7 linked regions of the Homo sapiens genome follow. The protein of the gene in region 3 purifies or fractionates together with the protein of the main gene of each other region. This does not show direct contact. Each region holds a gene or a part of one and is shown on either strand. Other genes may lie near its edges. The genes, in order: GTF3A, EPS15L1, EPN1, FLT4, MAP4, TMEM171 and SMAD5.

Region 1 (3,973 bases), on a different chromosome or scaffold from region 3:
CTTTTATGGCTGTGTAGTATTCCATGGTGTATATACATCACGTTTTCTTTATCTACTCATTGGTCGATGGGCACTTAAATTGGCTCCATGTATTTGCAATTGTGAACTGTGCTGCTGTAAACGTGTGTGCATGTGTCTTTTTCATATAGTGACTTCTTTTCCTTTGACCAGACTTCAGATTATACTACGAGGCTACAGTTACCAAAACAGGGTGGCACTGGTTTAAAAATAGGCACTTAGACCAATGGAACAAAACAGAAATAAAGCCAAATACTTACAGCCACCCGATCTTCAACAAAGCATATAAAAACGTAAACTGGGGAAAGGACTCCCTATTCAATAAATGGTGCTGGAAAAACTGGATCCCTATCTCTCACCTTATACAAAAATCAACTCAAATTAAGTTTATGACCTGAAACTAAAAATTCAAAATGAAAACATTGGAAAAACTTCTGGACATCAGCCTAGGCAAAGAATTCTTACTAAGGCCCTGAAAGCAAATGCAACAAAAATAGAAATAAATAAATGGGACCTAATTAAACTAAAAAGCTTCTGCACAGCAAAAGAAATAATCAGCAGAGTAAACAGACAACCCAGAGAGTGGGAGAAAATACTGGCACATTATGCATCCAATAAAGAATGTATATCCAGGATCTACAGGGAACTCAGATCAGCAAGAAAAAAACAATCCATCGAAAAGTGGGCAAAGGATATGAACAGACATTTCTCAGAAGATATACAAATGGCCAAAAAACATGAAACAATGCTCAACACCACCCTTGCATTTCCAATCTTATTCACACCTAGAATCCAGGCATTTTCAGCCACATGAAGTACCTACTTGAATAGAGGTTCATTGGTATGCTGGCACTGATGGATTTTCAGCTGCTGATGTTTCTTAAAGGTCTTCTTACAGTCTTCAAAACTGCACTGTTAAATTGTAAAGGCTCGTTAGTCTTATGGAAAGTCAAAACAAAATGAACAGTTCGTAACAGAATCCTCAAGATAAAACAATTTTGGAGACTGTATAAAATTTCTGCTTTCACCCATTTTGTTACTGTAAAATTCTGCTTTATCTCAAAAAGGTTTGAAGAATCATATAACATTTGAAAAAGCAAAACTGTTTCAGTTGGAATAGTCTCCCAATACACTAATTTGCACAATGTCTGCTTCCAAATTAAAACCTTTATCATTATGATGGCATTAAGTAAATTCAGACATTTGGCAGACAAAATTTGGTTGACGAAAACTTTATTTTTCACTTTTATTTTTTAGAGACAGGGTCTCTGTTACCCCAAAATTTTTTGTTTTGTTTTCTGTTTTTGTTTTTTTTTTTCAGAGACAGCATTTCACTATGTTTCCCAGGCTGGTCTCAAATTCCTGGCCTCAAGCTACGATTATAGGCTTGAGCCACCGCACCTGGCTGAAAATGTCAGAAACATAGGCAGTAAGTGTAAAAATACTCAAAAAATTTAAGCATATAAAATCATACTTACTATATATTGTTTTTGTTGATTTTCATGTTTGCGTTCAAAATGTTTCTTCAAGTTTGATTTTGTGTTGAATTTTTGATCACAGCCATTGGCTGCACAACTGTAAGAAGTTATATAAACCAAAATATTAATAAACCAAGGGAGAAGAAGTTTTAAGACACATATATCTTCCTACTTTATAGAAGCTAATTCTTCCAAAGAATAGTAATACTATAAAATAGTCTTAGCGAATTCCAGAGTGTTAAGCCATACCACATAGACTCTCAACCTGATGACTATCATGTAACAAAATGCTTTTTCATATTAGGCTTCTGAAATTATACACACTACATCAGTCATCTTTTATACACACTGGGCAGATGGGAAGGTGAAATACACTAGTCCCAAAAGCCTACACTAGGCCTAAATCATGCTTAAGACAAATTATTCTCAGCTTAGAATCTGACAACCTTAATGCTGCTTGAGATGTCATTATGAACTGGATTTCCAGAAAGGCCTCCATAAAACTTGTCTTGGCTTATCATTAGAGGTAAAACAGATACTTAGAGCAGAACCATAACCATTATGTTCTCTGGCTTACCAAGCCATTCTGGTTCCCCTTATCTTGGCATCTTGGCTTTGAATGATCTAAATCCTCTGCAAAGCCTTTTCCTTTTTTTTTTTTTTTTTTCCCAAAAGAAAATTTGTGCCTCTTGTGATGAGCCTTCGTAAGCTTGAGGGATGAAGCAGGACTTCCTTTCCCAGGCTCAATCTTAGCCATCACTCACTGATAACCCTGAGGCAGGCACTGTCCCATTCCTAGGGCCAAGCAGAGACAAACAAGCCAGCAGTGACCATGGGAGGCACAGCACAGAGGCCCACAAATGGGAGGGGCGCTGTGGCAGAGACCCTAGAAGCCCCCCTAACTGCAGGGACAGAATGCTGAGTGTTAGCTGGGCAGGTGGCCGACAGAAAGTGCACTCTCCGGCCTCCCCTGCAATTAGGGCGGCTCATGGCTGAGTCCAGCCCATCCTGCTCAACCCCCACAAAGTCTCTAAATAAGGGGGCATGCCTCTTATGCCCTTTCCTCCTTCCTGCCAGTGGCATGCTTATGTGACAGATGGGCCCAAACAGGCATCACAGTGAGGTTAAAGCCCAAGATGAGGATGGCAGAGACCAGTCAGAAGAGGCTCCAGAGCTCCTGCCTCTGTATTTCTGTATTTCAGTCGCACAAGACAAAGAGCCCATCTTGTTTAAGCATCTCTTGTGCTGGGGTTCCTGCCATTCTTCACTCTAAACCTGACACAGGCATCTAACCCAACCGGGTATGGGATAGGAGGACAGGCCAGGAAGAGTCCTGACAAGACCCAAGTGGGCGTGAGAGACCCCGGCACACTTGGAGAGGGGGCTGGTTAGTTAGCACAGCTGGACCACAGCTTCATGCCTGCAAGTCAAGCAAATGGGGCAAGATAAGCAGAAAAGGGCTAAATCACGCAGGTCATTGTAGGACACACTTGAAACCTGGATTTCACATGTAGGCCGTGCTTGAAAGCACTGCACAGCTTTAAGGGAAGCACACGGGAGGGCACTGGGGGAGAGGGCTGGCCTGCAAACTGTCATTCCAGCCAGAGGAAGGGACCGAGATAAGACAGTGGCTGCTGGATCTGATGGGTCAGTTACAGGATCTGGCAACCCACCTGTTGCAAGGGATGGGAGAAAGAATGGAGAGTCCAGGGAGCTGCCTTATCTTTGCTATGGGTCACTGGACAGACAGCGAGGCCACCTCTCCAGACAAGAACATGAGAGAAGATCAAACAGAAAAGTGAGCTCAGTTTGACTGTGACAAATTTGGGCCATGTGGAATTTTTTATTTATTTATTTCTTTAATAGAGATGGACCTGACCATCTTGCCCAGCCTGAACTCCTGGCCTCAAAGCAATCCTCCCACCTCAGCCTCTCAAAGTGCTGGGATTACAGGCATGAGCCACCACACCCAGCCTACCACATGGAATTTAAGAAGACACAGAGATAGCCAAGTAGCACTGTCCAGCGAGCAGTGGGAAACGGGGAACTACAGCTAAAGAGGGGCAGGGTCTGGGTTAGATCATGAGCTGGAAGAGTCATGTCCAGTAGTTCCTGGTTGCATGGCATTTCCTACCATCCCCACCCCCTACTTGGCCAGGATCCCCCACTGCTCCCAAAACAGATGACATTTTTAGTTTTGTTATGTAACTTTTAAGACTTCTTTACAAATAGGAACAAATACAAATATAGTTGCTTCCTGCCTACCCAACACCCACTACTCACCCCTCCCCCTACCCCCTAGCTTTTTTACACACATAAAAGTAGCCTAAAGAGGACTCTTCTGCACCTTGGTTTTTCAATTAAAGTGCCCTGGTGATTTTCTCATGGCTTTGCAGAGAGCATCTGCATTCATTTTCCTGGCTGTAGGGTATCCCATTGTGTTGATATACTTTAGCTTGTCCCCACCCATGAGCATT
Region 2 (3,973 bases), about 39 Mb from region 3:
TGTCCCCATAGTGAGGAGAGGGGAGACCCTGGGCCACCTCTGGTTTTGTTATCTCAGGGCACCAGCCACCCCAGCAGCCCAGGCTGGCTCTCGGACTCAGCCCCACCACCCAGCCATGGCTCCCCGCAAACCCACCCCTCCTCTCCATTCTCACGACCACCACCTCACTCAGGCCCCAGCTGCTGCTGCCTCTCCCTGGACCCCACCCGAGGCCCCTGCAGTTCCTGCGTCCTGATGGCCCCTTGCACCACGCTCCACATGGCAGCTGGAGGGAGGAGGCTTGTCACAATGCCCGTTGTGCTATTTCAGCTTTGGTTATTTATCTTAAAGACAGATAATGCATTTGCGTGGTTGAAAATCAGGAGGTGAGAAGCCTCTGCCCTCTTCTTGGGTGTCCCCATCCCCGGAGGTGCTGTTCATGAGCTCCTGGAGGGGGCCTTCCAGAAAGGTTGATGCATACCACACATACCCTCCCCTTCCCGTTCGCACAAATGCAGTGTGCTCATGTCCCACTGTAAGGCAAAGCACACGGCGCCATCCCGTTCCATGGCCAAGGAGCGTCCCACAGTGTGGGCTGTGCTGGAACCTTCCAGCCAGCACCTCATGGACATCTGCATTGTTTACGGATTTTGCTGTCATAGACGTTGTATACCTCTGCACACGCTGTATGCTTCCAGGATGCTTTTCTTGGAAGTGGAATCATGGGGCATTGGAGCCTCGGGCTGACCATCTGGATCCATCCCACGGGGTCAGAGAGAGCTTCAGAAACAGAATCATGATGTCCCGCCTCCCACACTCACACATCCCACCGGGCTCCCCACCACAGAGCCCAGCGCAGTCTCCTTGGCGTGGCCTGTGGGGTGCAGCCTCTGATGCCTCCACCCATTCCCTTTTGCTCTAGCTGGAGTGCGACACCCCCCGACCCTGGGGTCCCTGTGGTTCCCTCCGCCAGGCTCTGTCCCTGGCTCTTCACCTGCCTGGCACCTGCTCACCTGTTGGCCCCATCCTAAATGCTGCTTTTGTGGGCATCTTCCCTGCCCACAAGGTGTGACTGTAGTTTCCCTGTGACCCCCTTGGTGCCACTTGTCCACGTTTATTTGCGTTTGGGTGATGTTCCCCTCCGCAGCCACAGCTGCATGTCATCCGGGAGCTGGGGCCTTTTTCTCACAGGGACCCAGCCCCTTCTCTCGCACCTGGCCTCTGTTAGGCCATCGGGAAATACCTGCTGAGGGAGCTGGTGAGACAGTGGCCCTGGGCCTCCAGCCCAAGAGGCACACATTGGCCGTGGGTGTGCACGGAATGCTGGCCCTGAGCACGGTCACAGTGGGTGGTTTCGGAGGCTTCCCCTGGACTTCTGGCCCAGGCTGCCCCCCGTTATCTTGGACATGCTTCATTTTTCCCATCCTCACGTAAACCCCTGCAACTCCTCCCTAGGAATTACAAAATGACCTAGACCGGGAAACAAGCAGTTTGCAGGAGCTCGAGGCTCAGAAACAGGATGCTCAAGACCGCCTGGACGAGATGGACCAGCAGAAGGCCAAGCTCCGAGACATGCTGAGCGACGTCCGGCAGAAGTGCCAGGATGAGACTCAGATGGTGGGTCCCGGCCACCTCCGGGGCAGCGCCCTATGCACAGGCAGGGGCTTCCCAAGGACTCCCCTGAGCTCGTGTTACCTGGGAACACAACACTTAGACATCCTACTGGGTCAATAGAGTTCCTCCAAACACCACGTGGAAAAGTGTCCAAGCACCTGTGGCTTGACTTCCTGGCCACCCCCCTGTACTCCTAGAAGTCAGGTTGTATAAGTGAATGGCCTTGGTCCCTGCGAACTTGTGCCCTGAACACACCCCACCTGGCTGTGCCCCACAACACAGGGAGTTCCAGGGTGCCTGTGTCCCCTCCTCAGGTGTCTCTGAGGCTCCTCACAGATCCCGGAGGCTGCAACCTCAGAAAACTCTATGACGTTCAGCCTCTGGGGGGATGGACAGATTGTTCGTGCTTGGTCATGCCCCTCATTATTCCAAAGTGATCTTCCGTTAGCCACAGTGGGATGAGCCCATCTGCCTTTTCATTTGTGTCTCTATTTTGGGTGTAGAAAGAGGCCTGTAAGGAAGCCAGGTGTCGGGCCTGGGTTAGGTGTCTGCGTCCCTGGCTTAGCTTGTTTCGGGGATGGGGGCTAAGAGTTCTTTCTCGGAGTCCCATTTCATCCTGCACTGTGAATCTCTTTAACATCTTTTAACATCTCATTTCAGATCTCATCACTGAAAACGCAAATCCAATCTCAGGAATCTGACTTAAAGTCCCAGGAAGACGATCTGAACCGAGCCAAGTCGGAGCTGAACCGATTGCAGCAGGAGGAAACCCAGCTGGAGCAGAGCATTCAGGCTGGGCGAGTCCAGCTGGAAACCATCATCAAGTCCCTGAAGTCAACGCAAGACGAAATCAACCAGGTACTTCACGGAGTCGGGTCCCTGCCACATGCCAGGGACCAGCGAGCCCCAAGAGCCGAGGCTGCCACTGCTGAACTCCTTTGCTCTCACCCTTGTTACTTACGTGAGGGTCTCTTTTGGGAGGCTGTGGTGCTGGCCTGGAGGCGCAGGGCCAAGGACTCCCCAGGGCATGTTCCAGAGTTTGTTGGCATTGGCCTGGAGGAGTTCACTTTCCTTTCCTGAGCACACAGCATCTTCAAGGAGTAGGCGGGGTGGGGTGGGAACACTTAATTAATGGCTCATTTGGAGAGAACTTGGGGTTCTTTCCAGCCTGGTCCTCACACAAACAAGAGGGACAAAGTCAGAGAGATGACTTCTTTGTCCTTGGGCAAGAGAACAGACGTCATCCTCCACAGCCACTGGTGTGTTCAGGAGGCGCCACCCTGGAGCATCACGCCATGCAGGACCCCCATTCTCTAAGCTGCCTGGGACGCCCCCACCCTCTTCCCAGTCCAGGGGGGGGCGCTGGCTTCTCGTGGCCTGCAGCCGTTGCCCTTCCCTGCTCTCCTGTGGGCAGTAGATGAAGGCCTCTGTCCTGGCCCTGGGCATCCAGTCTACACAGTGGTTGTGACACTGGCCCTCGCCTGTGTCGGAGTGGCCAGGCACACTTCTTTTACCAATTGAACTGGTCTCTGTCTGTGCTCCATTAGCCAGTTTATAGGCCACAGTTGATCGCAAGCATGGACCGCTCAGAGATTTACCACCCTTTCTTGTGCTTTATGGTTAATATCTGTAGGATTACTTTCAGTGTTTTCTCTTCTAACCCTTAGAGTTTGTAGTTGGGTGTCAGGAGCAAAGATATGTTGCTTTGCGCAGTGCAGTGCCTTACACCTGTCATCCCAGCACTTTAGGAGGCTGAGGCAAGAGGATCACTTGAGGCCAGGAGTTCAAGACCAGACTGGACAACATAGCGAGACCCCATCTCTACAAAAAATACAGAATTTTTTTTGTATTTTTTGCAGAGATGGGTCTTGGTTTGTTGCCCAAAAATATAGGTGGTGACACGCACCTGTAGTCCCAGCTACTCAGGAGGCTGAGGCAGGAGGAGCTCCTGAGGTCAGGAGCTCAAGGCTACAGTGAGCTATGATCACTCCACTACATTCCAGTCTGGGTGACAGAGTGAGACCCTGTGTTTTAAAAAAAAAAAGCGTCTTTTCTGACATGTTTTCCTGACCCTGCTTAATGCTGATGATGTCTTTGTTGCACAGGCAAGGAGCAAACTTTCCCAGCTGCATGAAAGCCGCCAGGAGGCCCACAGGAGCCTGGAGCAGTATGACCAGGTGCTCGATGGAGCCCATGGTGCCAGCCTGACCGACCTGGCCAACCTGAGCGAAGGCGTCTCCCTGGCAGAGAGGGGCAGTTTTGGAGCCATGGTAAAGGTTGAATAAACGTATTACAGTATGGGGCTCTGGTCCCCTGGTGTGACAGCAGAACATCCCACCCGCCAGATCTGTTCATGGCCAACGTTGGTTCCAGCCAAGTG
Region 3 (3,973 bases):
CCCTGCCAGAGCTACCATTCTCAACAAGCCCTGGAAACAGGCCTGGGAAACCTGGGAGGAAGGACCTCCCATCCCCCAGGGGCCCAGGGACAGACCCCAGGCACGCGGAGAGTCCTGGTGGTGGCAGGGCTCAGAGGTTGCTGGGGTTCCCCACCTGCTTATCAGACTGACTTTTGCTCTGGTCCTTCCCTGATGCCTGGCCCCTCCCGTGGGTGGGGCTGCCTGCATCCCCACCCTTCCTCCTCTGAGCACCTGGCGTCTGGTCTCCGCCTCTCAGTCCTAGTCTTGGCCTGCAGAGGTTGTAGGGTGGGGGACTTGGGGGGTGGGGTTGGACACAGAAGCCCCCGTCTGTCTAGGCTATGGGGTTTCCTGTCTCTCGTTCCCTGGTCTGGGTCTCACGCGTTTCTCACCCGCCCTCCAGCCTCATCAGCAGCTGTGGGCTCAGGCCCCCCTCCCGAGGCGGAGCAGGCGTGGCCGCAGAGCAGCGGGGAGGAGGAGCTGCAGCTCCAGCTGGCCCTGGCCATGAGCAAGGAGGAGGCCGACCAGGTACTGGGCGTGCAGCTGGGGCTGTCTGTCCGCCACCCGCCTCCACGCCTCACTTCAGGCTCCCTCCCAGCCAGGCGTGGGCCTGGCCCTCACTGTCGCTGCTCCACATGCTGTCACTCGTCTCCTCCCCAGTCCTGCCTCATCCTCACCCCGCCGTCCCTCTGCGTGTCACTCTCTGCCTGTCCCTCACTGGTTCAGGGACCCCCAGCCCTCTCTTTCTTCGGCTCTATCTGACCCTGGCTCTGCCTCTGACTCTGCCTCTGGCCCCTCCCGTCATGCCCCTCACACTCTCTCTCCCCCAGCCCCCGTCCTGCGGCCCCGAGGACGACGCCCAGCTCCAGCTGGCCCTTAGTTTGAGCCGAGAAGAGCATGATAAGGTCAGAGCAGCCTCCCTGTCCCTGCCCCTGCCAGGGGCTCCCCTCAGACCAGCCCCGTCGCCCCTTCCTAAGTCACCCCCCACCATCCTGCTGGGCCCGAAGCCCACAGGCTCACGCGTGTTGAAACCTCAGTACCTTCAGCCGTAGGATGTAGGACCACAAGTCAGACAGAGCCTGGGTGGTGGCCAGCACAGCTGTGCCAAGGTTGCTCGGGTGACCAGGGTCCCTTCCTCCCCCCAACGCAGGAGATACCACCGAGGCGGGTGCCCGTCCTCCCCGGGTGCGCCAGCACAGCACCCCACTCCCCTTATCCCCTGTCCCGCCTGACCTTTGACCCAGGTGCCCCATCCCCATTTCATACATTGTCCGCATCCCATCGAATCCTTCAGCCGCTTTCGTTGGGGTGGGAGGGGTTGCTGGGGCTTCCAGGCTGAGGTGGCATCTGCCCGTGGCTCACGTTCTCATGTCTCCCTGGTCGTGCCCGTGCCCCAACAGGAGGAGCGGATCCGTCGCGGGGATGACCTGCGGCTGCAGATGGCAATCGAGGAGAGCAAGAGGGAGACTGGGGGCAAGGAGGAGGTGAGCGGGGCTTGTTCTGCCCTCCCTGGCCCCTGCAGGTGTCCGTCCGTCCCATCGCTCATTCCTGCGTGGCCAGGTCCCTGGAGCAGAGACTGAAACACAAGGTCCTGGAGCTGGGCACCGGGTTTCCAGGCTTGGTCGGCCTCTCTGTGCCTCTCCCTCCCTGCTGGGCTGAGGCCGGTGACTGACCAGGCTGCCCTGCGGCCACCTCCTGTGGTCAGCGCTGGCCATCCCCCTTCGGGCTGAGCACCGTGAGGGCCACCACCGGCCGCCACAGCTGAATGGGGAGGCCCAGAATAGGCCAACAGCCTGGCATGGCCACAGGGAGGAGGGTGCAGGGCTCGCCCCATCTGTCACACTTTGTCGGGCACCTCCTTGGTGCCAGGCCGTGTGCTGCACACCCAGGGCCTGTTGGTGAGCGAGGAGGCATGGTCCCGCCCTCGCGAACACTGTTTCTGTGGCGTCCCCATGCTCTGCAGCTGAGTAGCAAACCCTCCCACAACCTTGTGCTTCCAGGTCACGCTTCAGTACTTCCCTGTGACGGGCCCGCTGGCTGGTTGTTTCGTGTCATGGCTGAGGTCACTCATGCCTCTGGGCCCGGGGTGTCCGCACTGGCCTTGCCCTCCAGCCTCCTCCCCTGGCCTCTCCCTGGTTACTAGTCTGTCCTGAGTGTCCTCATAGCACAGTAGCTGCTGCTGCTGCCGCCCCCCAGGACAAGCTCGTCGGGCTGGGTTGGAGTTGCCTCGTCAGCCTGTGCACTGCTATTGGTCTCAGCAGGTCCTGAGGCCAGCCCAAGTTTGAGGGGTGGGGACAAGGCCTCCTCTCCATGGGAGGCGGCAGACAGCTTGTGGCCATAAGTGATCAGGCACAGTGGGACTTTCTTGGTAGACGGAAAGCCTCTTTAGGTTGGCCTCGGCCAGGGGGTCTCTATCAGTGTCCACCACAGCCCAGTGACCCGAGTAAGGGCTGCCCTGCTGGGGGAGCACCAGATCTCACCCATCTCTTCTCCTGCCCTGCCCTGGACTCAGCTCTTCTCCCCTTCCCATCCCCGCCGGGGCCTTTGCCTCACGGGTGCTGACTGGAGATGTGTGCATGAGTATGTTGGGGGCATCTGCACGTTCTGAGACGGGCTCTGGTTAGCTGGGCCCGTCGTGTGCCCACTTCCAGAACACAGGACCATGCATGCGTGTGCGTGCGGCATGGGAAGACCTGCAGTGCGATGACTGCGGGGTGACAGTGGGGCAATGGGCGTGGGAAGGCCTGCAGCGCGATGACTGCGGGGTGACGGCGGGGCAACGTAGGGGGCATCGTGAGGGGTGCTCAGGTTGACCTGAGTGGGTTCATGGGGGGCTTCCCAGGGGAAGGCATGGAGCAGGGGCTGGCCAGTCTGGCTGGAGAAGGCACGGTGGGCAGAGGGAGGATCGAGCTGCTTCGGGTCGAGCGAGGGGAGGGCTTGGCCTCCATCCTCAGTCAGGGCCGGGCAAGGACCTGGGAGCAGGTGGAGTTAAGGGGCTGCCCTGCTGCAGTGTGGAGAATGGATGTGGGGCAGGAGTGGGGCTGTGTTGGGGCTCCCTGGTGGTACCCTCGGGTGGGGTAGGTGGGCAGGGGTGGGCCGACCCCATGACGGATGAGGAGGGAGGCCAGGTGGTGTGTTTGGGGCCTGCCTCCCTCTCACCCCTTATGGATGGCTGCTGTCTGGACACCCAGGGCCTGGCCGCCTCCCCCGCCACGGGCCCCAGCTTGGTCCCTGTCCCAGGCTTCCCACCACTTCTTCATGCTCCTTCTCTTCTCTCTCCCCCACAGTCGTCCCTCATGGACCTTGCTGACGTCTTCACGGCCCCAGCTCCTGCCCCGACCACAGACCCCTGGGGGGGCCCAGCACCCATGGCTGCTGCCGTCCCCACGGCTGCCCCCACCTCGGACCCCTGGGGCGGCCCCCCTGTCCCTCCAGCTGCTGATCCCTGGGGAGGTCCAGCCCCCACGCCGGCCTCTGGGGACCCCTGGAGGCCTGCTGCCCCTGCAGGACCCTCAGTTGACCCTTGGGGTGGGACCCCAGCCCCTGCAGCTGGGGAGGGGCCCACGCCTGATCCATGGGGAAGTTCCGATGGTGAGTGCGTGGCCCACTTGCATGCAGCCCCTACGCCTGTGTGCACCTGTCTTTGGTTGACTGTGCCCTTGGACAGGGACAGATCGAGCCAGTGGCGCCGGGCAGTGGTGGGGCGTCCTGGGTGCAGGGGAGGGGGCAAGGGCGGGGGTCAGATGAGAGCCCAGCACAGGGTGTGTGAGATTGTGCCTTGGAGGACATGGGGGGTGTGCTGTGGGGAGGGGATGGCAGCTCAGCCGAGGGGCAGAGAGGCTCTGGCCAAGGCAGAGCGTGTGTGACGTAGGCATCTGGGGAGGGCGGTGGGTGGAGCTGGGAGGTGCAGGTGGAGAAGGGGCCTGACACCCAGCTGGACAGGGGAGGGGTGGCC
Region 4 (4,570 bases), on a different chromosome or scaffold from region 3:
ACCCCAGGAGGCAGAGGTTGCATTGCAGTGCAGTGAGATCGTCCCACTGCACTCCAGCCTGGGCAACAAAAGAGAGACTTTGAGAAAAAAAAAAAAAAGTACATTCTGAAAAAAAAAGCAAAACATATATTTTGATGATAAAATGATAAACAAAAGCAGGGAAATGATAATGCCAGGGTAGTGGGCATCTTCTGGGGTTGGTGAGGGGTTTGTGATGGGAAGTGAGGGGATGTGGGGATGTCATTCTACATCCCTTGGCCTGGAGAATGGAAACACAGGTATTTGTTGCTTTAAAATTCAGGTTTATAATATGCTGATATATTATGTACTTTCCATAAGTGTGTTACATCTCATAATCTTTCAAAGCTAAAAAAAATCAATATATGATTGATAAATACCTAACTTCATGTATCGCTTGGTTACCTAGTTTCCCCAACCTTATTTGTTAAATTATCTACACTATCCGCACTGATTTGTGATTCCAGCTTAATAATATAGCCACTTCTTACCTGGATTGGAGAGAGCTGGTAGTGGTTATTGAAAATCTACTCTTGCTTTTTGGCGAGGATGAAAGGGCTTTGGGGGGCGGGGGTGGGGGGATGGAAAATGTGAATGAAACGAAAAGCAGGGAAGGAGGTTGAGACAGTCATGGTCATGGGCTTCATTATTAAACAGGAAAATTCTAGAGACAAACTGAAAAGAGAACGGAAGTCTGTAAGAGGGTTGCCAAGTCAGAAAGCAAAAGCAAAGTGTCGCTTTATTAAAAAGGTGGGGGCGGGTCCTGATTGAGCTGAGAACAAAACATCTGGGGGAGTTCTAAAGCTAGGAGGCCAGGCCTGCAGGGAGGGGGTCGGTCATCCCGGGTGTCCCGCTCACGGGTGCGGCTTCCGTCGACACTGTCCGTCGACACTGTGCAGGTAAACACTGCTGAACGGGTTTTGTTTTTGCTTTTTTTTTTTTTTTTTTGGCTCCCAGACTGGAGTGCAGTGGCGCGATCTCGGCTCACTGCAACCTCCTTCTCCCGGGTTCAAGCGATTCTCCTGCCTCAGCCCCCCCGAGAAGCTGGGATTACAGGCGCGCACAACCAAGCTCGGCGTATTATTTTATTTATTTGCTTGTTTATTTTTGAGACTGGGTCTCCCTATGTTACGCCGGCTGGTGCCACTATTTTCAAAGATGTAACATACTATTTTTACAAGGATTGCTTTCTTGTTTAGTCTAGATTTTACCGATGGAAAGAAAGGACGGAAAAGAGCGCGTGCCGCATTTTGCTCCCCTTTGCCCACCAGGCTCCATCACCTCCGGAGCGCATCGCGAGACCGTCTGCGTTACCCGCGTCCCCGCGCCCGGAGCCGCCCAGGAGGGGGCCCGGACCCTGTGGTGCGGAGCGCGCACTGCTCGGGTGCACCGGACGCCCCGCGGCGGGCTGGGAGGGACGGGGGGAGGGGGGCGCGGGGAGCGGCCTGAATCCCGGGCCCGCCTCCGGCCCCCGCCCCGCCCCGCCCCGCCCCAGGCCAGCCGGCGCCCGCGCGGACACTTTCAGCCCCGAGCCGCGGCCGCTCGGGTCGGACCCACGCGCAGCGGCCGGAGATGCAGCGGGGCGCCGCGCTGTGCCTGCGACTGTGGCTCTGCCTGGGACTCCTGGACGGTGAGCGCGGCGAACGGGCCACCCGCCCGAGCGTGGGGCTGGCCGGGGAGGGGGTACCGCGCACCTGGGGCGGGCGCTGAGACCGCTCCGCCGGGTACGGGCGGGGGACACGGTGGCCCTGGTGCGCGGACGCCTGAGGGGAGCACGGCGCTTGGGGCGCGGGACCTCGGGATGAGGAAGGGGCGGGCGGGGACCGCAGCCGGGTCAGGGCCAGGGCGGCCGGGCCGCGCCTCGGCGCAGGGGTAGCTCTCCCGGCCCCTGAATCCGCGTCTCCGTCGGTGGCTCCGCGTCCTCGGAGCCGGGCCCTGCCGGGCTGCGCGCTGAGCCCGGATCCTTCGCGCCCTTACTCGCTTCCCCGCGGGGTCCCCGCGCCGCGCCGTCCCGACCCACGCGCGCCGGAGATCCATCCCGGCCGGGCCCCGGACTTGGGTGCGCACTTCCCGACGCCCAGCGCCTCCGCTCGCGGTCGGTCCCCCAGAGGGCGCTCGAGGCGGGCTTCCCCCTCCCCGTGGCCGGCGACGGCGGGGACAGGGGCCGGGGACCACCGCGCGCCCGAGGCGGACGGGTGCAGGTGCACGCTGGCACTTGAGACGAATCTTGAGGAGGCGAATCGCGGGCTGTCAGCGCCGCAGAAGGGGCGGAAGGCCAGGGGTCCCCGGATTTGAGGGGACAGGGGCCTCGAAGGCCAGCTGAGGAGCAGAGGCCCCCGCGGGAGGGTCCCCTGCACAGGAGAGGCGGGGTTCGGTTTGTGTTGGGATGTGGCTCTGGCGGGGAGAGACGCAGACCTGAAGCGGAGGCGGAGGGGTTGGAAAGAGGGACTGTGGGGGATGAGCGGGCGGCAGAGGGAGTGGATGGAGATGTCAGGGAGGAAGCTGAGAAGATGAGCTGGGAGTCCCCACGGAGCTGGTGTCCCTGGAAATCAAAGGGTGTAAGGGCGGGGTCAGGGGTTCCAGTGTCTGAAGCCCTGAAGTCAGCGACGGGGACCTCAACATTTCTGCACGCCATAGGAATTAAATACTGGCTTTACATGCTTGTAATTCTCACAGGGAGTGTCAGACCCATTTTACACATGGAGAAGCTTAGACCAAGGACATGTGTCACTTCCCCAAGGTCCCCAGGAGGCCCAAAGTAAGCCTGACAAAGCCTGCCTTTGCTCACCACCTGTATGTCCACTGGCTGAAGGGCAGAGGACAGGAGAGGGGGCAGGTCTGGCTCAACCAGGGGAGGAGGGAGGAGAACATCTATCTGGGCCTCCGAGTCGGGCAGGCCAGATCAGGGCGCTGCCCTTGGCCCTCCTGGACCCAGCCCAGGACCAGGCTCCCACAGGTGCTCAGGATGTATTTGTCGAGTGGCTGGTAGACCTTGGTTGGACTGCAGGGCTGTAGAATGGGAGACGCTTATCCTGGAGGAGACATGGGACAGGCACCTGGGCGCAGTGTCTGAGCTGGGCTGAGTAGCTGGAGAGGAAGAGAGAGACCCGGGAGGGGAACCCTGGAGGAGGGGCCCAGAGGGCAAGGGGGCTTCCAGGGATCCAGGGAACATTCTGCAGGTATAAGGAGAACCAGGAGAGGCCAGTGTCCTGGTGCTCCCGGGTGGAGCACAGAGGGACGTGGGGTGAAGGGTGAGGAAGCTATTCCCTGCAGTAAGTAGTGACTCTTAGTGACCCAGTTATGAAGAGGAGAGAGGGCATTAGTTGGGCGCCCCATGGAGAGGGGTGTCCTGGGCTGGACCTGGGTTTGGCTGGTGGGGAGATGGCAATGAAGACAGAGGTCATCCCTCCGTGAGCCCTGCACCTTGCTGTACCCCCTGCTAGGCTGAAGACCCCGGGAGCCCCCAGCTTGATGGGGGATGCCATGGCGGAAGCACAAGCCCTCAGCTGCAGTCGGGTGTCAGGGCAGCTGGTCCGGTGGGAGCTGCAGTCGGGTGTCAGGGCAGCTGGTCCGGTGGGAGCAGGCCAGAAGCCTGAGCATCCTGAAGCTGACCCCTTAAAAGTGTGCTATTGATCATAGAACCAGACTCTTGTCCTGCCTCTGCCGTAAAGTCCTTTCTGTGTGACCTGGGCCCCCTCCTTTCCCCTCCCTGCACCTCAGTTTCCCCAAGCATAGCCATGGCACAAGCATAGCCATGGCACAAGCATAGCCATGGCACAAGCTGGCAAGCCCCGAGGTTGTGTGGGTTGTGTGTGCTTGGGCTGGACTCCAAGACCCAGATGCCTGCTGCAGTTCCACAGTCTTGCCCCAGTGGAGAGGGTAGGTCACAGATGTCTCTTGGGGCTTAGTCTAGAGAGAGGCCATTGGCACCTCTGCACTGTGGCTACCAGCTCAGGGACATGCAGGAGCAGGGTCTGCTGGGCATCTGGAGTGGCCTGGTCTCAGGACGTTTGCCCTTGCTGTGACCTGGGTCACAAAGGCCCAGATGTGGACAGATGTGTGGCCCAGGGATGCAAGTCACTGCAGGCAGGATGTGGGGATCAGGCCCACTTTACTTGGGCCTGGGGACCTTCTGCTCCAGCTCAGGGCTCTGAGGACTCGAATGCAGGTGCTGTTCCCTCATCCACCAGGCCTATGGCACAGAGCCAGTGTGGCTGAAGGAGTCCTGAGCCCTCCCAGAGCATAGGGCCCACATGGCTGGGCCCAGACAGGGTACGAGGTGTGATGTGTGGTCTGTCTGGCGAATTCTTCACTGTAACCCCCAGCAGTGGCACCCCGACCCAGGGAAGGAGCCTGCAGTTCTATGCAAGACCCCAGCATAGTGCCTGTTCGGGGTGGCCCAGGGAGGACTTGGACCTGGCCCCATCGCACAGGGGTTTCCTGTGCCTTGCAGGGACACAGACATGCCATCAGACGTGTATTGCCCAGGGATGAAAGTGTTCAGGGGCCCTGGTGAGGCCCAGCTGGTGGCTGTAAGCTGCACAGGAAGGCA
Region 5 (3,973 bases), on a different chromosome or scaffold from region 3:
GACTAATTTGAATTATAAAAAGAGAATCATGGCCCCTCACTCAATCCATTTCCAGACTTCAGCCAGTTTACAGACCCAGAACCCCTTGAATGAAGGGGAGGCCAGGTACCCTTGAGAAAGGACCCCACTACTTTACTGACAATTTATGCAGTGAATCTTTCTCCCATCCTTCCCCAAGGAGACCTCCATCCAACCTTTCACTTTGGGGACTACTGGACACTGGCTCTGGGCTGATGATGACTCCAGGGGACTTAAAACATCACTGTGGTCTTCCAGTTAAACTAGGGGCTCATGGAAGTCAGGTAATTAATGAAGTTTTAGCTTAGGTCTGACTTACAGTGGGCCCAGTGGGTCCCTGGACTCATCCTGTGGTCATTACCCCAGTGCCAGAATGCATAATTGGCATAGACATACTTAGCAGCTGGCAAAACCCCCACACTGGCTCCCTGACTGCTAGGTTGAGGGCTATCATGGTGGGAAAGGCCAAATAGAAGCCCTTAGAGTTGCCTCTACCTAAAAAAATAGTAAATCAAAAACAATATCACATCCCTGGAAGGTATGCAGAGATCAGTGCCACCATCAAGGACTTGAAAGATGCAGAAGTGGTGATTCCCACCACATCCCCATTAACTCTCTCATTTGGCCTGTGCAGAAGACAGATGGATCCTGGAGAATGATAGTGGATTATCATAAGCTTAACCAAGTGGTGACTCCAATTGCTGCTGCTGTTACCAGATGTGGTTTCATTGCTTGAGCAAATTAACACATCTCCTGGTACCTGCTATGCAGCCACTGACTCTGCAAATGCCTTTTTCTCTATTCCTGTCCATAAGGCCCATCAGAAGCAATCTGCCTTCAGCTGGCAAGGCCAGCAATATACCTTTACTGTCCTACCTCAGGGGTATATCAACTCTCCGGCTTTGTGTCATAATCTTATTTGGAGAGATCTTGATCGCTTTTCGCTTCCGCAAGATATCACACTGGTCCATTACATTGATGACATTATGCTGACTGGATCCAGTGATCAAGAAATAGCAAACACACTGGACTTATTGGTGTGACATTTGCATGCCAGAGGATGAGAAATAAATCCGACTAAAATTCAGGGACCTTCTGTCTCAGTAAAATTTCTAGGGATCTAGTGTTGTGGGACCTGTTGAGATATTCCCTTTAAGTTAAAGGATAAGTTGTTGTGTTTGGTCTCTCCCACAACCAAGAAAGAGGCACAATGCCTAGTGGGCATATTTGGATTTTGGAAGCAACACGTTCCTCATTTGGGTGTATTACTCCGGCCCATTTACTGAGTGACCTGAAAGGCTGCCAGTTTTGAGTGGGGTCCAGAACAGGAGAAGGCTCTGCAACAGGTCCAGGCTGCTGTGCAAGCTGCTCTGCCACCTGGGCCATATGACCCAGCAGATCCAATGGTGCTTAATGTGTCAGTGGCAGATGGGGATGTTGTTTGGAGTCTTTGGCAGGCTCCCATAGGTGAATCGCAATGGAGACTTCTAGGATTTTGGAGCAAGGCCCTGCCATCTTCTACAGATAACTACTCTCCTTTTTTTTTTTTTTTGAGACGCAGTGTCACTCTGTTGCCAAACTGGAGTGCAGTGGTGCGATCTCGGCTCAATGCAACCTCCACCTCCCAGGTTCAAGCGATTCTCCTGCCTCAGCCTCCCAAGTAGCTGGGAATACAGGTGCGTGCCACCACATCCAGCTAATTTTTGTATTTTTAGTAAAGATGGGGTTTCACCATGTTGGCCAGGATGGTCTCGATCTCTTGACCTTGTGATCCGCCCACCTCAGCCTCCCAAAGTGCTGATTACAGCTAACTACTCTCCTTTTGAGAGTCAGCTCTTGGCCTGTTACTGGGCTTTAGTGGAAATTGAATGTTTGACTATGGGTCATCAAGTCACCATGCGACCTGAACTGCCCTGCCTATCATGAGCTGGGTGCTTTCAGACCCATCTAGCCATACAGTGGATTGTGCACAGCAGCATTCCATCATCAAATGGAAGTGGTATATACGTGATCGGGCTCAAGCACGTCCTGAAGGCACAAGTAAATTACATGAGGAAGTGGCTCAAATGCCCATGGCCTCCACTCCTGCCACCCTGCCTTCTCTCTCCCAGCCTGCACTGATGGCCTCATGGGGAGTTCCCTATGATCAGCTGACAGAGGAAAAGAAGATTAGGGCCTGCTTCACAGACGGTTCTGCATCATATGCAGACAACACCCGAAAGTGGAGAGCTGCAGCACTACAACCCCTTTCTAGGACATCCCTGAAGGACAACAATGAAGGGAAATCTTCCCAGTGGGCAGAACTTCGAGCAGTGCACCTGGTTGTGCACTTTGAATGGAAGGAGAAATGGCCAGATGTGTGATTATATACTCATTCATGGGCTGTAGCCAATGGTTTGGCTGGTCAGGGACTTGGAAGGAGCATGATTGGAAACTTGGTGACAAATTTGGGGAAGAGGTATGTGGATGGACCTCTCTGAGTGGTCAAAGACAAGATATTTGTATCCCATGTGAGTGCTCACCAACAAGTGACCTCAGCGGAGGAGGGGTTTAATAATCTAGTGGATAGGATGACCCATTTTGTGGACACCACTCAGCCTCTTTCCCCTGCCATCGCCCATGGCCAACAAAGTGGCCATGGTGGCAGGGATGGAAGTAATGCTTGGGCTCAGCAACATGGACTTCCACTCACCAAGGCTGACCTGGCTACGGCCACTGCTGAGTGCCTAATTTGCCAGCAGCAGAGACCGACACCAAGCCCTCAGTATGTCACCATTCCTTGGGTGATCAGCCAGCTACCTGGTGGCGGATTGATTATATTGGACCTCTTCCATCATGGAAAGGGCAGAGGATTGTCCTCACTCAAATAGACACTTACTCTGGATATGGGTTCGCCTATCCTGTATGCAATGCTTCTACCAAGACTACCATTTGTGGAATGTTTTTTTGGTTTGTTGTTGTTGTTGTTGTTGTTGTTTTGAGAAGGGGTCTCACTCTGTTGCCCAGGCTGGAGTGCAGTGGCACAATCTTGGCTCATTGCAACATCCGCCTCCCGGGTTCAAGTGATTCTCCTGCCTCCGCCTCCCAAGTAGCTAGGATTACAGGCACCCGCCACCACACCCAGCTAATTTTTGTATTTTCAGTAGAGACAGGGTTTCACCATGTTGGCCAGGCTGGTCTTGAACTCCTGACTTCAAGTGATCTGCCTGCCTCGGCCTCCCAAAGTGCTGGGATTACAGGCGTGAGCCACCGCACCCAGCTGACTCATGGAATGCCTTATCCACCATCATGGTATGCCACGCAGCATTGCCTCTGACCAAGGCACTCACTTTACAGCTAAAGAAGTGCGGCAGTAGGCTCATGCTCATGGAATTCACTGGTCTTACCATGCTCTCCATCATCCTAAAGCAGCTGGATTGACAGAACAGTGGAATGGCCTATTGAAGTCACAATTACAACGCCAACTAGGTGACAATACTTTGCAGAACTGTGGGAAAGTCCTCCAGAAGGCCGTGTATCCTCTGAATCAGCGTCCAATATAAGGTACTGTTTCTCCCATAGCCAGGATTCACAGGTCCAGGAATCGAGGGGTGGAACTGGAAGTGGCACCACTCACCATCACCCCTAGTGATCCACTAGCAAAATTTTTGCTTCCTCTCCTGCAACATTATGTTCTGCTGGCCTAGAGGTCTTAATTCCAGAGGGAAGAATGCTGCCACCAGGAGACACAACAATGATTCCATTAAACTGGAAGTTAAGATTGTCACCTGGACACTTTGGGCTCCTCCTCCCTTTAAGTCAACAGGCTCAGAGGGGGAGTTACAGTGTTGGCTAAGGTGACTGACCCAGACTATCAAGATGAAATCAGTCTACAACTTCACAACGGAAGTAAGGAAGAGTATGCATGGAATACATGAGACCCATTAGGGCATCTCTTCGTATTACCATGCCCTGT
Region 6 (3,973 bases), on a different chromosome or scaffold from region 3:
ACATTCACGATGAGAATTCTACAGAGGTCCAGCCCTAGCCTGCCCTTTCTCCATGCAGGGCCGTTCCCACATGCACCTCCCTGGATCCCCCCATCACGACCCCATATGAAGCTGTAAAGCCAATTCTGTCCTTGTCAGCCACCTCTTTCCCTCTCCCATCAGATAACCTGTCCCCCTGCTTTTGTGGGAAAAGAATCTCTACACAACTTCATTCCCTCCAGGCCCCAGAGAAAAGGCACCCTGGCCCCTGCTCCAAGGCCCACTGCCTGCTCTGTCAAGGCAGGGTGGAGAGGGAGTTCCTTAAACACGAATAACAAGGTAAGGTGGTGCTATCCCCAGCAATGAGCACCAGTCTCTCTGTGCCTGCTGCTCACTGCATGCAAAAATGCACATATCTCATTGTCTTACCTGCTTCACCCTGTGACAATGTGAAGCAATTCTTCCTTCCCTTCCTAAACCCTGGTTTCCCATTCTAGAAGGTACCACCAGAGCCTTCTCCAGCCCTGCTCCCTGAGCACACCATTTCTGGGGTATGCACAAGCCCCTCCTGGGGGTCTCCCACTAGTCCCTGACTCTTTGCCCTTCTGGTTCTCCAACAACCTCTGCAGCTCCATCTCCATCACCTCCTCTCTCTCCCAAAACCCAGCCCTTCCCAGTCTGCCTCCAAGGCCCTCATCTCACTGTACCGCCACCATCAGCCGCCCACCATCCTTTCCCCACCGAAACCAAGCTCATCACTCACGTCTTCTCAGTTGGGGACCTCTGAGCTTCCCTGTCACTCACCCTGGAACTCATCATCTTCGCCTCTTCCTCAATGTCATTCTCCATCCAGACCCCCTCCCCCAGGCTCCTGGCACCTCAGGCCCGTCCCACTAGAGCCTGCCTCGCTGCATTCTGTGTGGGGTGGGTATTGACCTGATATTCTCTGCGGCCCAGGGAAGGAGCGAATATTGAAGGAGAGGCCCAGTTGTGTTGGATCGGGGCTCAGGCTGACTTTAGCCAGTCACCCAAGCACGGCCATCAGAGTACTAAAGCCCTTCTGTAACTGTTGGGGATCCCCTGAGACCCTCACACCTCTCCATGATCTAAAGCAGTGAAGCCTAGCATAGCAGGGGCCTCCTGGCCCAGTCCTGGTGCTCAGTCTGATTGGTGGGTCATTAAACATTCTTTTTTTTCCCCCTGAGATAGAGTCTCTCTCTGTTGCCCAGGCTGGAGTGCAGTGGCGCGATCTCGGCTTGGAGCAGAAGAATAGGGTGTGGAGGCAGGGAATCTACGGCCGTTTCACGCTGACTTCCTAGAACTAAATTGAAAGGAAAACCCTAACTTTCCACCCCTGAGTAACAAAAGGACCAAAGACTACTCCCTTTGCAAACACCCACCTTTCGGCAGATGGGAAATTGAAAGTGCCTCTAATTGGTTGCTTTTTGCAACCAATCAGACATTTGCATAGGACAACAACTTTGTAACTTCACTTCAGCCTCTGATTGGCTGCTTTCTGCAACCAATCAGACGGATTGTGGGCCACCACTTCATTTACATGAGGTGAACACAAAGTGGCCAATGGGAAACCTCTAGGGGTGATTTGGACCCAAGAAGATTCTGGAACTGGGCCCTTGAGCAGCTGTTCAGGCTTGCTCCCACCCTGTGGAGTGTACTTCCATTTTCAATAAAATTTTGCTTTTGTTGCTTCATTCTTTCCTTGCTTCGTTTGTGCATTTTGTCCAGTTCTTTGTTCAAAACACAAAGTACGTGGACACCCTCCGCCGGTAACAGGCTCACTGCAACCTCTGTCTCTTGCGTTCAATCGATCCTCATGCCTCAGCCTCCCGAGTAGCTAGGATTACAGGTGCCTACCACCATCCCCAGCTAATTCTTCTATTTTTCGTAGAGACAGGGTTTTGCCACGTTGGCCAGGCTGGTCTCAAACTCCTAAGCTCAAGTGATCCACTCACCTTGGCCTCTCAAAATGCTGGGATTACAGGTGTGAGCCACAGCACCCGGCAAGGGTTGTTAAACATTCTGAGTATCACCCCTGTTAGGAGCACATAAAGATAGATGCCTGGAGTAGGCTTCATATTAACCCAGCATGATCACTTTATCATTTTTAACTTATGTGCTGCCCAAATTTCGGCAAAGGTACTGTTAATATCAAGACACTAATTCTGACATAACATCAGCAAAAAAGATACTCACACTTGAATGCCTCCTGGTGAACCACACAGCCTTAATACTAGTGTGGCCTGAATTCAGGCCTCTCTTGAAGTTCAAATTGAAATTCTTACCCATAGTTGAAAATACTGTAATATGAAGGGGGGTTTTCATTCGGAAGCAGACTGTTAGTTCCAGGACTCTCAGCGACCGCAGAAGCTGAAGATTCAGGAAAGTAAGGTGGTGGAGGGGGTGGAAATATTATTACCGAGTCACCTAAGGCAAAACAATATTTAGTTGACAACAGGTGGGTAATAAATGGAAGCAAATTAGCAAAAGCAAAATTAATTATATATTTGGCCCATCTATATAAAAGGTCAACACACCTGCTGCTAACTCCAAAATTTAAAAGTAAGCCCATTAAATGTATAGAGATAGAAAAGTAGACTAGGTTACCAGGGGCTAGGAGGGGTTCGGGAGGAGGAAGGGAGTGGGAATTGCTGTTTGGTGAGTACAGAGTTGCTGTTGGGGATAATGGAAGAGTTCCAGAAATTGATGATGATAATGGTTGAACAACATTGTGACTGTATTCAATGCCACTAAACCATTTAAAAACGGTTTGGCTGGGTGCAGTGGCTCACACCTATAATCCCACCACTTCGGGAAGCTGAGGAGGAAGGATCGCTTGAGCCCAGGAGTTGGAGACCAGCCTGGGCAACACAGCGCTATCTCATCTCAAAAAAATTAAAAGAAAAAATTTAGCCAGATGTGGGAGTACACGCCTGCAGTCCCAGCTACTCGGAAGGCTGAGATAGGAGGACTGCTTGAGCCCAGGAGTTCTAGGCTGCAGTGAACTATGATTGTACCACTGCACTCCAGCCTGGGTGACAGAGCAAGACCCTGTCTTAAAAAAAAAAAAAAAGCCAGGCGTGGTGGCTCACGCCTGTAATCCCAGCATTTTGGAAGGCCGAAGCGGGTGGATCACTTGAGGTCAGGAGTTCAAGACCAGCCTGGCCAACACGGCGAAACCCTGTCTCTACTAAAAATACAAAGAAAAAACAATCAGGCAGGCGTGGTGGCAGGCGCCTGTAATCCCAGCTATTCGGGAGGCTGAGGCAGGAGAATTGCTTGAACCCGGGAGGCAGAGGTTGTGGTGAGCCAGGATCATGCCACTGCACTCCAGCCTGGGTGACAGAGTGAGATTCTGTTTCAAAACAAAACAAAACGAAACAAAAAGCAGTTTAAATTGTTTATGCTTTATATATATATATATATATATATTTTTTTTTTTTTTTTACCACAAATTTTTTAAAAGTAGGCCTACATTTCAGAATCCAGAGTGCTGACAATTATGGTATGAAAGCAGGTCTATATTTTGTAGCAAGTCTAAGACCAAGCCTTTTTGTGAATTGTTTGCTAACAAGCTCCTTTCCCTCCTCTGGGGTGTCTACTGCTGAAAAAGCTTTTCTCGTTTTCAGCCTACAACTTTAATTCACAAGTTAGCTGTTGGCTAAAGTGCCTTGTTCCTCAAATGTAGTTTCAGCCCCTGAGCAAATGACAGTAAGCCATATTACAGCCCCTAACTGTTATTTACCAAAATTTCACCCATACAGATGAAGGTTGAACCCAAAGAAGTTTGGTTTTTGCATTTCTGTGGCTACTGTTCACTCCAGAATACATCCTCATGTTTTGAGGAGAAACTAGGGACCAGATGCAAACTCTAATTTGTATTCCGATTCCAATATAAAATGCACCACACAAGTGGACCAGAACAGTGTAGAGCTCTGGCAGCACCACTGCTGGGGGCCTGGTGAAAGCCTCTGAG
Region 7 (4,570 bases), on a different chromosome or scaffold from region 3:
CAAGCGTACTCAAGTCAGCTCTGAAATTCACCCAGATGTGTGGCTCATTGCCTAGACCAACATATACATCTGGTAATAATAAACACTGATATGTCATAAACAAAAAGAGTTTCTTTAACTCTACAAAGTACTAGTAATATTAAAATTTACATAAAGACAAAGAATATATATGAAATAGATTTTTTTAGATGGTATTTCAACTTAAGTAACTGTATTAAGAAATGAAAAACTGGTATTTTACTGCCTAGTTTTCAAAACACTAAAATCTTTAATTTGACCAAGTTACAAATCTGTTTTCAGTAGAGGGAGAAAACACACTGCCTCCGTTCAATGCAAAGGACAAAAAAGATCATCACTGCAAATCATAATGTTTGGGTTCATGATGAAAACAGGAAACAGACAGGCTGCCCAGGTATAATTATGGTTGTAATCTAATGTGCCTTCAGGTTCAGCCAAGAATTAAAACCCAGTGAAGAGGGTAAGCAGAATTTACTTGCCTCTACTTTGCTGCAGAATGCAACTTTTAATAATACTCCCAGCAACATGTTACATAACCAACAGTAAACAACAATCTGATTCAAACCTCATTAGTAACAACATTCTGCCACTGTCTCCCACTGAAATTAATAGCTGACTTTGCCAGAGGGGAAAGAAATCCAACACATTATCAATCTACCCATTTCTGTGGCGCCTACCACAGTGAACCAGACACGCAGATAATACTACCAGATCTGTACAGAACCTACGAAAATATTTTATTCTTTTTTTCCAGTTTGCTGCTCTCTTCCTCCTTTTAACTAGACCATATCATGTGGATGCCTTTAAAACCTGAGAGTAAAGTCAGTTGAGAAGGTTAATCTAACTTTTCTTGCTTATTTCAGCTATGATCTGAAAGGAATGGAAGCACAAAATGATGAATAAGGTATTTTTAACAAAGATACATGGGTAAATTAACAGCAGTAATGTAAAAAAGACTGAGGGAGCAACAATGTGGAAAGGGAAGGAAAGGAAGCTGTATAGGAACAATCACACAAATAATCATCAAAATTAAACTTTATAAATCTAAACATAGTATCTACAACCTTTATGAAGGTTAAGTTTTGTTAAATTGTCTAAGTTTTGCATTTTTACAATTTTCACTGTAGAGAAAAAAATATTAATAGTTACCAAAGGAATAAAAGACTAAAATAATTTGTTATACATCTGCAAATAGCTCCTTAAATTTGGAACACTAATTTCATAATGATATTTGGATCCATAAATGTGAAACTGTCACACTGAATGTAGGTACTGTTTTCCCCACAATGGATACTACTGCATTGGCATCTAGCAGAAATTGTAAGCTATTTGGAATGTTACTAAACCTACTGGGACTAAGGTTTTCAATCTTTTGTCTTTCAAATTAAAATTAAAAACTAATTCACTCTGGGCAATTCAGGTACTCTAAGGAAATTCAAGTACTCTAGTTTTAAATACGAATTTTCAAAAACGCAACCCAAGTACCCTTTCCTCTCAACTTCTGTGAGGCCAAGCCACGACCTCCACCTATTCAATCTTTGCTGCTAGATAACAACCCTTTTGGTAGTGCTAGGCAACAGGCATGATGTGACAAACCTAGACATCAAAACTTTTCCACAGAAAGATAAGGTAAACAAGATATACTTAGCGCCACACCCATTTAAATGCACAAGCAACCAAAATTGCTCCCTCCCCCCGCAACACCCCCCCCCCCCCCCCAAAGCTCCAGCTGGTCAGGAAACATTGTCTTTACAATCAAGATAAACATCTGGCTCAGGGTGTTCAGCCATTCCTCACCTACAGGCTTGCCTAAGCCCCATTCTCCAATGCCATCACCACCAGAACCGGAACATTCTGTTGGGAAGCCGGCAAACGTCCAAATACCCCAAGTATCCTCGCCCGAGTTCTGCAACCAAAAATCTGTTTTGGCTACTGAGCATGCTCAGACTTAAGACGGGCGCGCCACATGGGAGTTTTCAAAGCTTAGGCTCCAAACTCCACGTAGTAACAGCAGCTGAAAGGAGGAGAGGGGAAAAGGGGAGGGGAAGAGACTGGAATATTAATTTGAGCCCTGATATTGAAGTATAGGACCCGGCCAGCGGCTGAATATGGTGAAGGCAAAAAGACGCTGCTTTGGCATTCTCTTTGCAGCACAGAGAAGTTTACATGAAGTAGAAGAAATCCTTGCAGTGGTGAAAACTGACATGGCAAGTGGCAGAAACCAGGTCTAACTACCAGCTGATTGCAGTAGCCGGTCACAACTGCCCAGAGTGTAATTCCCACCGATAAGCGCGGATCCTTATCTTTGAAACACAAAGCGACGGCGGCACGGATTCATCAAGCCATTGGACAGCTTCGCAGTGCAGCAGCCCAGGCTGCCCGGCCGAGCACCGCAGTCCTATCAAGGGTGTGTATCCAGGGTGGTACATCCGATGAGTTAGGAAAGCAAACCGCTCCCCAGGACAGCGCGGGGTCAGGGGGTCCCCTCCAGGGCGTCCCAGACGCCTCCCTCCAAAGTCTGGGCGGTAACAGCGGGGCTGGGACGAGGGCCAGCCCCGGCCCCGCCTCAGGACGCCCCGGGCAGCCAGCGAGGCCTCCGCAGCCGCTGGGCCGCACCGTGTCCGCCAGCCGGGACCCCGGCAGGCCAGGACTCGGCCTACCTCCCGCCCGACAGGCCCTGGGTCGTTTCCGCTCCGTCCGCGGCCGAACGCCCCCGCCTCGGCCCGAGTCCGCCGGGGCAGAGCCTGCAGCCCCCAGTTCCCCTCGCCCGCGCGCGCCGGGGACCCTCACTCACTCGCGAGCCGGCTAGGCGCGCTCTCCCGACGCCGTCGCTGCGCTTCTCCTCGCTGCAACTTTATTAGCAGCTCGGCCGCGGGACACGCGCACGGCGCCCGCTCGCCCAGGACCCGGATGAGGGAGGGAGGGAGAGGGAGCCCGGGAGGACGCCCGCTGGGGTCGGCGCATGCGCGCCAGAGGCGGAGTGACCGCTGCGGGACCGAGGGAGGGGTGTCTTGCCCGGGCGGCTGAAAGAAGCCTCCGCGCCGGGCTCCGCGCCGGCCAACGCCGACTTCCGATCAGCTGGAGGCCTTCGCGTCGATGGCCAGGCCTGGGAATGGGAATCAGATAGCTCCCACCACCACCACAGTAGGCGCTAGAAGCTTCCACTAACCAAATCAGTATACATTGTAATAAAATTAAGTAATTGTCCTTGACACAGACAACTGGAGGTTTTCTGTCACATACAAAGTGTAAACAAAAACATCTTCAGATACGACTTAGCTACTTTTATTGATCTGTAATACAAATCTGAATGAAGAGTCTTCTTTCTGTGCAAAGTAGCTTCAAAACATGTTTCTGAGCATCTTACAGCTTCTTACTAGATGCAGCACTAAAACCCCTCCCACGGGGCAATCCTGGAACCCTTGAGGGCCTGTGGAAATGGAGCGAGTGCCCACCCTGGAGTTCCAGGAGTGGGACTGCCCATACACTGGATCGCAACCCCAGTTGTTCAAGACACATAGCCTCTCCACCTCCTTGTGGGGAGGGAGATCCCGTGGGGACCCAGCCCCTGGACAGGCGGGGCCACTGAGTTGCAGAGACACCATCCATAGGCTTATATACACCACCCCATCTCCTGGACTCTCTTTTCTAAGTAATTGGAGCTCTTCTCGATGCTTTTTCCTCCAAATTTCCAAAACCGTCAGTATTTCCTAGAATATAATATTGGTACCACATAGGGTACCCGATTTGAATAGTACTAGTAAGAAAAAGCTTTTGAATAATTTTGTTTTTATTTGAAAAGGTCAATACTGGCTCTCCAATGTTCTATTATAGGTTTTCTTTTTAAAATAAGTAAAAATCAAAATCGGGGTCATTTTGGAATGCTCTTTGACACCCTAATCCAATCCATCAGAAATTCTACTGACTCTTTCTTCAAAATTTATCCTAAATCTGACCATTTCTCACACCTCAATTGCCACCTCCATGGCCCGAGCCAGGGTCATCTCATCTGACACACAAATGGCGCAGCCACTATTTTGCTCCAGGCTCTAGAAGTTTATTTCTGTGGAGAAGAAACTAAATAAATGTCCAGAAGTCTCTGCATTAGGGGTGGCCATCTGAAATGGTGACAGAGGGCTAGTAAAGGAGTGAAGGGGAAGTGGGGGAAGAGACCAGAGAGTGAGTGTCTAGTTCCAGAGACCAAAGGGGTCACTGCTATTTCATTCCAGCCAACTGTTACCATAGGGAAATGTGGGAATAAGGACCCAGTGTTGGCAGATATTCTGATTTTTCAAGCAAAGCTGGAAATTTAGATTTTTATGTGAAAATCTCAATTATATCTGTTTAGCAACTTCTTTCTATTTTTCTCTCTCTTTGCCTGTCTCCTGCCCGCCCCCCACCCCGCTCCCTTCCTCTCACTCTGTTAGACATTCTGGAGGCCAACTACATGCAAGCCAAACAAAACAAATCCATGGTCCCGATTTAGCCTACTGGCCACCAGTTTGCAATTTCAGGTCTCCATCTTAAACTTCTTTACTACATCATAAACTTT

The links.
Region 1: the proteins of EPN1 (region 3) and GTF3A purify together in Homo sapiens (affinity purification with western blotting, with the first as the bait; one study listed by BioGRID). This does not show direct contact.
Region 2: the proteins of EPN1 (region 3) and EPS15L1 purify together in Homo sapiens (affinity purification with western blotting, with the first as the bait; one study listed by BioGRID). This does not show direct contact.
Region 4: the proteins of EPN1 (region 3) and FLT4 purify together in Homo sapiens (affinity purification with western blotting, with the first as the bait; one study listed by BioGRID). This does not show direct contact.
Region 5: the proteins of EPN1 (region 3) and MAP4 purify together in Homo sapiens (affinity purification with mass spectrometry; one large-scale study listed by BioGRID and IntAct). This does not show direct contact.
Region 6: the proteins of EPN1 (region 3) and TMEM171 purify together in Homo sapiens (co-immunoprecipitation; one large-scale study listed by IntAct). This does not show direct contact.
Region 7: the proteins of EPN1 (region 3) and SMAD5 fractionate together in Homo sapiens (co-fractionation; one large-scale study listed by BioGRID). This does not show direct contact.

The regions. Positions count from the first base shown.
Region 1 is NC_000013.11:27,427,490-27,431,462, reverse strand, and holds part of GTF3A (transcription factor IIIA), read right to left. Parts: intron 1,594-3,973; coding exon 1,497-1,593; intron 931-1,496; coding exon 842-930; intron 1-841.
Region 2 is NC_000019.10:16,402,211-16,406,183, reverse strand, and holds part of EPS15L1 (epidermal growth factor receptor substrate 15-like 1), read left to right. Parts: intron 1-1,434; coding exon 1,435-1,596; intron 1,597-2,253; coding exon 2,254-2,451; intron 2,452-3,698; coding exon 3,699-3,863; coding exon of another isoform or gene 3,864-3,878; exon of another isoform or gene 3,879-3,973.
Region 3 is NC_000019.10:55,688,449-55,692,421, forward strand, and holds part of EPN1 (epsin-1), read left to right. Parts: intron 1-421; coding exon 422-546; intron 547-848; coding exon 849-923; intron 924-1,418; coding exon 1,419-1,502; intron 1,503-3,305; coding exon 3,306-3,609; intron 3,610-3,973. UniProt on the Homo sapiens protein: Binds to membranes enriched in phosphatidylinositol 4,5-bisphosphate (PtdIns(4,5)P2). Modifies membrane curvature and facilitates the formation of clathrin-coated invaginations. Regulates receptor-mediated endocytosis.
Region 4 is NC_000005.10:180,646,566-180,651,135, reverse strand, and holds the start of FLT4 (vascular endothelial growth factor receptor 3 isoform 1 precursor), read left to right. Parts: upstream 1-1,535; 5' UTR 1,536-1,590; coding exon 1,591-1,648; intron 1,649-4,570. UniProt on the Homo sapiens protein: Tyrosine-protein kinase that acts as a cell-surface receptor for VEGFC and VEGFD, and plays an essential role in adult lymphangiogenesis and in the development of the vascular network and the cardiovascular system during embryonic development.
Region 5 is NC_000003.12:48,006,122-48,010,094, forward strand, and holds part of MAP4 (microtubule-associated protein 4), read right to left. Parts: intron 1-3,973. UniProt on the Homo sapiens protein: Non-neuronal microtubule-associated protein. Promotes microtubule assembly.
Region 6 is NC_000005.10:73,126,841-73,130,813, reverse strand, and holds part of TMEM171 (transmembrane protein 171), read right to left. Parts: intron 2,425-3,973; coding exon 2,283-2,424; intron 1-2,282.
Region 7 is NC_000005.10:136,131,205-136,135,774, reverse strand, and holds the start of SMAD5 (mothers against decapentaplegic homolog 5), read right to left. Parts: upstream 2,931-4,570; 5' UTR 2,813-2,930; exon of another isoform or gene 885-2,812; intron 1-884. UniProt on the Homo sapiens protein: Transcriptional regulator that plays a role in various cellular processes including embryonic development, cell differentiation, angiogenesis and tissue homeostasis.